2 linked regions of the Homo sapiens genome follow. The protein of the gene in region 1 purifies or fractionates together with the protein of each later gene. This does not show direct contact. Each region holds a gene or a part of one and is shown on either strand. Other genes may lie near its edges.

What was found. Proteins that work in one complex are often made in the same cells at the same time.
Region 2: the proteins of HRH1 (region 1) and GDPD5 purify together in Homo sapiens (co-immunoprecipitation; one large-scale study listed by IntAct). This does not show direct contact.

The regions. Positions count from the first base shown.
Region 1 is NC_000003.12:11,152,928-11,156,677, forward strand, and holds the start of HRH1 (histamine H1 receptor), read left to right. Parts: upstream 1-1,565; 5' UTR 1,566-1,627; intron 1,628-1,818; exon of another isoform or gene 1,819-2,204; intron 2,205-3,750. UniProt on the Homo sapiens protein: G-protein-coupled receptor for histamine, a biogenic amine that functions as an immune modulator and a neurotransmitter.
Region 2 is NC_000011.10:75,438,820-75,442,469, reverse strand, and holds part of GDPD5 (glycerophosphodiester phosphodiesterase domain-containing protein 5), read left to right. Parts: coding exon 1-107; intron 108-666; coding exon 667-824; intron 825-1,159; coding exon 1,160-1,307; intron 1,308-2,508; coding exon 2,509-2,591; intron 2,592-3,650. UniProt on the Homo sapiens protein: Glycerophosphodiester phosphodiesterase that promotes neurite formation and drives spinal motor neuron differentiation.

The DNA of each region.
Region 1 (3,750 bases):
CATGGCCTGCCATTATCTCAAGGCCAAAGTCTCATATCACTGGGCATCACAAAGTCCTTTAATCCCCACCTTGCAGATGGGATCAGTGATCTCTGAGCTACCATTTATGGAGCACTAAGCCCTTTATAGAAATGGCATCATGAAACTTTCCAACAGCCCCACGGAGATGAAGTTATAACAGCACCTTGGACCTTGGGGCCAGGCTGAGTAGGGTGGATGCTCAGTTCTCCTACATGTGACCTTGTGCAAGTTACTCAATCTCTCTGTGCCTTCATTTTCTCACCTGTAAAATAGGGATAATAATAGTTCCTACCTACTAGGACCTATTATTGTTGTGAGGATTAAATGAGTAAGCATCTGTAGCACTTAGAAAAGCATCTGACACAATGGCCCCTGTCTTTATGAACCCTTGTGTTACCGACATGGGCCCTGAGGCCAAGAAAAAGGACCATGGACCTACCATACACAGCTTGTGAAGCTGAGCCTCAGACCCAGCTCTGTGTGGTCCACAACCAGGGCTGGTGGGACTGCTGCTACTGGGAGGAGGCTAAAATACCCCTCTGACCCCCACCCCCACACCCCAACCCACCATGTCCCACCTCCTCAAACACCCTCCTCTCCCTGTGAGCTTAGGTGGTCCCTTCGAAACTGCTGGGGTAAAATCTGAAACCATAACTGTTCAAAGGTTCAAATGGAGTTTTCCCGGCGCTGAGAAGGCAGAAAAACCTCGACCTCTCTCTCCCAGCTCTGGAAATGAAGGCAGCCAGGAAGAATCCTCAAGCTCCCATTGCCAGGGACAGAGGTTCCCGGGGACCTGCAGAGGGGCCTCACCCCCACCCCACTCCTCCCCTTGCTGCTCGGGGTGGCACAGGTTGCTAATTAAAACACATCCTATTTTGAAATGTGGGCTCATTCATCAGGACGGGCTAGGGAGAAACAGAAGAGAGGTGTGAGGTTGTAGACCCTGGGGTCTCTTTAGTTCCCCGAAACCTCTAGGGGTAGGGTTCCTACTGTCAATCTTGTTCCACCTCTGTCTGACTTTGCCTTTTTCGATTTTGGCGCCCCTAGCAGGAATGAGGGGCGCAGGTATCACTATTTGTCTTTTTCAATCTATCTGTGATTGACTCTGCCAAACATCGTTTCATCTCTATTTCCATCTGTGCCTCTTTGTCTTGATTTATCTCTGTCTGTCGTTTTGTGTGCCCGCAGGTGCGTGGGTGGGGGTGGAGTTGTCTCACCAAGGTTCTGACCCTTCTGCCACCCCTCCTTCCAAACCCAAGGAGCAGTCCGCCTCGCAGAGCCCGAGCCCGGGTACCCAGCGGGAGCAGCTCCAAACCTGGGGCGCGAGCTGGGAGAGGGTGTCCGAGCGAGAGGCGCGCCCCTCGCGCCCCCTCTCTCCGCGGGGGCGGCCCTGGGCGCGTGGAACCGGGTGCGGGGGCGCTGCAGGCCCGCGGGGCCCGGGTCCCCGCCTTCCCCGCTGCTCGCGGGTGGGCCCCTCGGAGCGGCTCCTCCTCCGGCGCCCCGCTCCCCGAGAGCTCCCCGGCGCCCCCGCCGCCGCCCCCGCGACACCCAGCAGCCTGGCCGCCGCGGCCAACGCGCCACCAAACTTTCCCCGGAGCCGGCGCCGGTGAGTCGCAGCGGGGCGCGGGCTTGGGCGGGAGCGGGGCCGCCGCGGCTGGGCGAGGCTGCGCGCTGGCCAGGCTGGGTTCCGGGCATCCCGGCAGGGCGGCCGGGAACCCCGGAGCCGCCCGCTTGAGAAGAGCGCGCTTGGGTACCCTCGCGACGCGGGTGGCCTGGGGAGGGTGGCGGAGGGCGGCTCGCTCGGTGGCACCGCTCCCCTCTCCACACTGTGGCCTCAGCACTCGACGCGCAGACACCTTTAGCTTCCCCGGGCTTGGGCAGGGTGCGCGCCCTGAGCGTCCGTCTTTGAGCTCGGGCGAGCAGAGGGGGAGCCTCGTTTTCTTTGAGCCTCCCCAGGGTCTGAGTTCGCTGCTAACCGTAGTGCCAGCCCATTGGTTGAGTGCGTTCACTGTGCCAGGCTTTGGGCATCCATTATCTGTTGCAATATTGTTATACTCATTTTACAGAGGAGGAAACTGAGGCTCGGGGAGGGAAGTTGTGCCCAGGAGCATCAGCTGGTTAAGGGGAGAGAGTCAGGGTTTTGCTCGGAGTCATCCTGATCCAAATCACTTGAATACACTGAGGTAAGCCCCAGGCTCAGCGTCACCTGGAGTCGGGGGTGGGAACTGTCCGGACCACCACCCGCCCTTCCCCTGCAGTTCGGCTGCAGCTGGGGGTGTGGAGCAAGAGGCGGATCACCTCCTCCTCGTTGTACCGAGAGAGGAGGATGCTTTGGGAAAATGAGTGGATATTATGGCCAGGGAGTGGATTCTGGTGACAGAAAAGCATCGGGGCTGCTCTTTCAGAGATCAGATTCTAGAAGTTGCTCTCAGTTTTTCTCGAAGGAGCCCAGGAAGCCAGGAGCAGGAGCTGGAGTACAGCAGCTCCTCAAGGAAGTCACGTCTCCTGCTCTGTTACCCCACCCCCAGCCCCCAGTCCTCCATGAAGATCCCACCTCTTCCCTCCTGATTCCCTGATCCCTCTGAGGTGTCCGCTTGCCTGGCAGCTGATAGTGCAGAGATGTTCCAGGCAGAGTGGCTGTCCTCCGGCAGAGGGCTCCCGCCTCAGCCTGGAGCAGACAAGACGAGGCAGGCTGGGAGTCCTGGTGAACAAGGTTTTCAGGCTGGAAGGTGCCTGAATAACTCATTTCATGATTGCGGGGCCAGAAACCTGTGACAGGAGCACAGACGGAGTGTGTCCCTGGAGCATGAAGGAGAGGGGAATTGAGGGTCTTATAGGAAGAGTCTTGGAGGCAGCCAGAAACCAGCAGAGACTGGGAGAGAGGGAGGGTGTACACATGAGAGCATCATTATGCATTATCCCATCACAGCATTCTTGGAAGGTAAGTACTATTATTGAACAGATAGTCTACTGAGGCTCAGAGAGGTTAAGTAATTTGCTTGAGATTGCCCAGCTGGTCCATGACAGAATTGGGGTTTGAACACCCATGTTGCCTGACTCCCTCTAGATTATGAATGAAACTGAGGTGGCAGATGGGACCTTAGCTCCTTCTTTGCTTGTGTCTGGCAGCAGCAAAGGATGAATAGAGGAAAGCCAGGCAGCAGGTCCACTGCTCACAGGAATCCTGGACAACCCCATGTAAATCCTCGAGTGTGATTCAGGCATTTCTCCTGGTGTGGGGAGAATCTACGGAGAAGGGCAGGGGATGCCTGGCATTGTTTTCATTTTCAAATGTGACAGAGAATCCCGTGGAGGCAGGAGATGGACAGGTGCTGCCTGTCCATGATTTCAGGGCTGGGTGGAGGCCGGAGCAGCCTGCCAAGAGACCCTGCACCCCAGAGTGGTTTGGCCAATGCTGGGCTGGGAGTGGTCCTTCCTGACCCTCAGCTGAGTGTCCAAGGGAGGAGGGACTTATACATGAGCCTCCTCCTCTTCGACTCTCTCAGAATTCTGTGTTGGCACTTTCCTCTTCACAATGAAGGAGTGCCTGGCTTTTCCTTAGCAGAGAAAACACATAGCAAAGACATCAAAAGTGTGGGATTCTGGAGCTCACCTGTTGGGGTTCACATCTCAGCACTGTTGCTTATGAGTTTTGTGGCCTTGGTCAAGTTGCTACACGTCTCCGTTCCTTGGTTTCCCCATTTTTAGAATGGGGGTATTCCTGACACC
Region 2 (3,650 bases), on another chromosome or scaffold:
CACTGCTGCTCAACCTGCGTGACCCGCCCCGGGAGCACCCCTACCGCAGCAGTTTTATCAACGTGACTCTGGAGGCCGTGCTGCACTCCGGCTTCCCCCAGCACCAGGTGAGGCCCTGCAACGCAGCTCTGCCCCCGGGAGCCCTGGCCTGGCTAGAGCCCTGCTGCTGCATAGCCTTTCCCTGTTGCACTCCGGACTTCAGCTTTCCCATTTGTAAAATGGGGATCACACACTGCTCACTTCCCTGGCAGGGTCATCATGGGACAAGAGGGGAACAAGAAAACACTTTAAAATGTATAAAGGTCCAGGCGGTCAAGTTATTTCAGTGAAGTGTTGCCCTGTCGTTTGGTGTAATAATCTGGGACCAGAGAAATCTGACATCAGTTTAGGACGGCACACTAGGTGCTAGTGGCCATGTGCAGAGTAGTGGCTGTTTGGGTTTTCCCTCCCGTACTGACAGCAGGCCAGAAGCGAAGTTTCCTGAGTTGCTGCCAGTGCACTTTGCAGCCTTGGCTGGGACTGAGTCCTGCCCTGCTAATGACTTCATCTAAGCTTTCACCGCCTGCCAGGTCCTGTCTCTTAACCCCACAGGTGCTCTAGGAGGAGTAGGTACTCTTACGCATCGTGCAGAAGAGAAGTCTGAGGCTGCCTCTCTTCTGCCTGCAGGTCATGTGGCTGCCTAGCAGGCAGAGGCCCCTGGTGCGGAAGGTGGCTCCCGGCTTCCAACAGACATCAGGCTCCAAGGAGGCAGTCGCCAGCCTGCGGAGAGGCCACATCCAGCGGCTGAACCTGCGCTACACTCAGGTGTCCCGCCAGGAGCTCAGGTGCCTGCCCTGCCCTGGGCTCCTCCAGGAGAGGGTGGGACTGAGTCTCTCCCAGTCCTGCCACCACCACCCCCCAACACACACACACACACACACACACACGGTCGGGCAGAGGGATGGGCACACAGAGGAATCAGGCACACATGGTTCAAAGACAAGAGGGTGAGCGTGTCGGGCAGACCCGGGCTTGTCCCGGAGCTTGGCCCTCTGGAGCCAATGTTCCTTGCCCCGGGCATGGCTGTGAGGTCGTGAACAGGACGTGCTTTACCAGCCCCGACACTGGGCCTGGAGCTGCCAGGGTCCGCATGCTGACCTGCCTCTCCCCTGCCCCACAGGGACTACGCGTCCTGGAACCTGAGTGTGAACCTCTACACAGTCAACGCACCGTGGCTCTTCTCCCTGCTGTGGTGTGCGGGGGTCCCATCCGTCACCTCTGACAACTCCCACGCCCTGTCCCAGGTGCCTTCCCCCCTCTGGATCATGGTGAGTTGGGGGGCAGAGGGCCCCTGGGGGGCAGTGCTGGAGCTGCCTATAGCCTGCCCTGACCACTCGGCAAGCTCTGTGCTTGGAGCTGTCCCTGGGAGGTCTCTAGCATGGTGGGGAGTCCATGGTGGGCGTGCAGGCTTGAGGCATGAGGGTTTCATGGCATCTGGGATCTGCACTAAGGTGCTGGGAGGACCCTGGGCCTCATCCACAGGGAGAAAAGCATCACTAAGGGCTCTAAAGAAGTAAAGAGCTGCTTGGGTTTCTTTGCTTTGGAGGGTAACAAGGACAGGAATAGGAAGCATTGACCGGGCGTGGGGCTCACGCCTATAATCCCAGCATTTTGGGAAGCAGAGGCAGGATGATCACTGGAGCCCAGGGGTACAAGACTAACCTGGGCAACCCTGTCTCTACAAAAAAAAATAATAATAATTAATTAATTTGCTGGCCAAGGTGGCACACGCCTGTAGTCCTAGCTACTCGGTAGGCTGAAGTGGGAGGATTGCTTGAGCCCAGCAGGTCAAAGCTGCAGTGAGCTGTGATCACTCCAGCCTGGATGACAAAGTGAGATCCTGTCTCAAAAAATAAAAATAAAAAAGAATAGGAAACAATTAAAATCTGCTCAGAGAACAGCAAATAAAGCAATATTTTAGCTGGTTGACTGGGCACCTGCAGATAGGTGGTGGCTCCACTGTCACCCTGAGCATGCAGAAGGCAGGTGGAGGGTATCCTTATGGCTGAGAGAATGCAGTGCCAATGAATCAGACCTAAGCTGTGGATGGTTCTATGGGAGAGGAGGGTGAAGGGAAGGCAGCCTGGGGAAAGGGTCGAGACCGATGGATGAGAGTCGGCAGCGGGGGGCGGCAAAGCCATTGTCTTTCAGTATCTGGCTCCTGCTTTGAGGACCCTAGACACACAGACCCTGCAGGCCTAGCACACAACCCCTCTGCCCTGAGCACCATACAGTCCCCTCCTACCCTGAGAGTGCACACGTGTGCACACACACGCCCCGGCCCCCAGGCCCACAGCGCCTGGAGCCTACACCTGCAAAATGTCATCTTCAGCCCCCAGACCCTCTCAGGGTCCTCCCTTGCCCTTCCCCAGTGGCCATGTGGGGTCCTTTGGTCCACGGACCCTCAGTCTGGAGCCTCAGTCTGGACTGGCCATGACTGGAAGTTGGCCTCGGGCCGTCTGTCCACAGCCCCCGGACGAGTACTGTCTCATGTGGGTCACTGCCGACCTGGTCTCCTTCACCCTCATCGTGGGCATCTTCGTGCTCCAGAAGTGAGTAGGATCTGACCACTTCCGTGGCTGTCCCTACCCTGCAGCAGGCCCAGCCCCCACCCCAGCCAGGTGAACCCTCTCCTGAGCCCTGGGCCTCAGCCAGGAGCAGGCCTGACCAGGGAAGAAGGACGGACTCCGGTGGCCCCATCCTCCCTCAGACAGAGGCTGGGTGACTTCTGGAATGAACATGCAGCTGGGATCCCAGAGCCAAGCTCTGCCTTGGGTGGCTATGTGGGCTTAGGTGAATTTCAGCTCCTCACCGGGCTGGCCTGCTCATCTGTTAGCCAGGGCATGGGTTCCCACCAGCCCTCAGCAAGATAGCTGGGGTGTGCTCGCAGTGGGGAGGTGTGGTTGGTCCCAGGGAGGGTCTAGGGCCAGCCTGGGGCCCCCACCCAGCCAGGAACCAAGGGGCTGGGATTTTATTCTTGACTGATGTTCTCTCTCTGTCCCATCCTGCTCTGATCGGCGCATGTCCCTCCTCTCTCCCCCTCCCCCTCTCTCTGCTGCACTCTGGCATCTCACAGCTATCACTTGATCAGGTAATTCTGGTGTGGTCTTCCTCCTCCTTCTGTTCCTCTTTCTCCCTCTTGCCATCCCTTCTCCAGTTCTGTCTAAAAACCCACCGTGCACCAAGCCCTGTGCCCGGGCCACCTCGCAGACAGCGCGCTCGCCTGAAGCCTCCCTTACCCCCGCAATCCTCTTTTCTGCTCCTCCCGTCCCACTGCCGTGTGTGTCCCTCTGCTCCCTGTTCCCACGGCCGTTTCTGCAGGTGGGGACCAGCGTTTCCTTGACAGCTTCCTGACCTGGCCCCTCTCTGCACCAAAGTGTCTCCCTGGGGGAGGGGACCCTGCCTGGGTACCCCCATCCCCCTGCCTCTGGCACTTACAGGGGCCTTCACCACTTGCCCAGGGCAGACCCTACCAAGTTTCTGCCTCTCTCTTCCCATCTTCTCCCTCCCTGGCTCTGCCTCTCCCACTGTTCACTCTTCCTGTTTACCTTTCTCTGCCTCTCCCATCTCTTTCTCTCTCTTCTTTACATTCTATCTCTAACACCCATCCC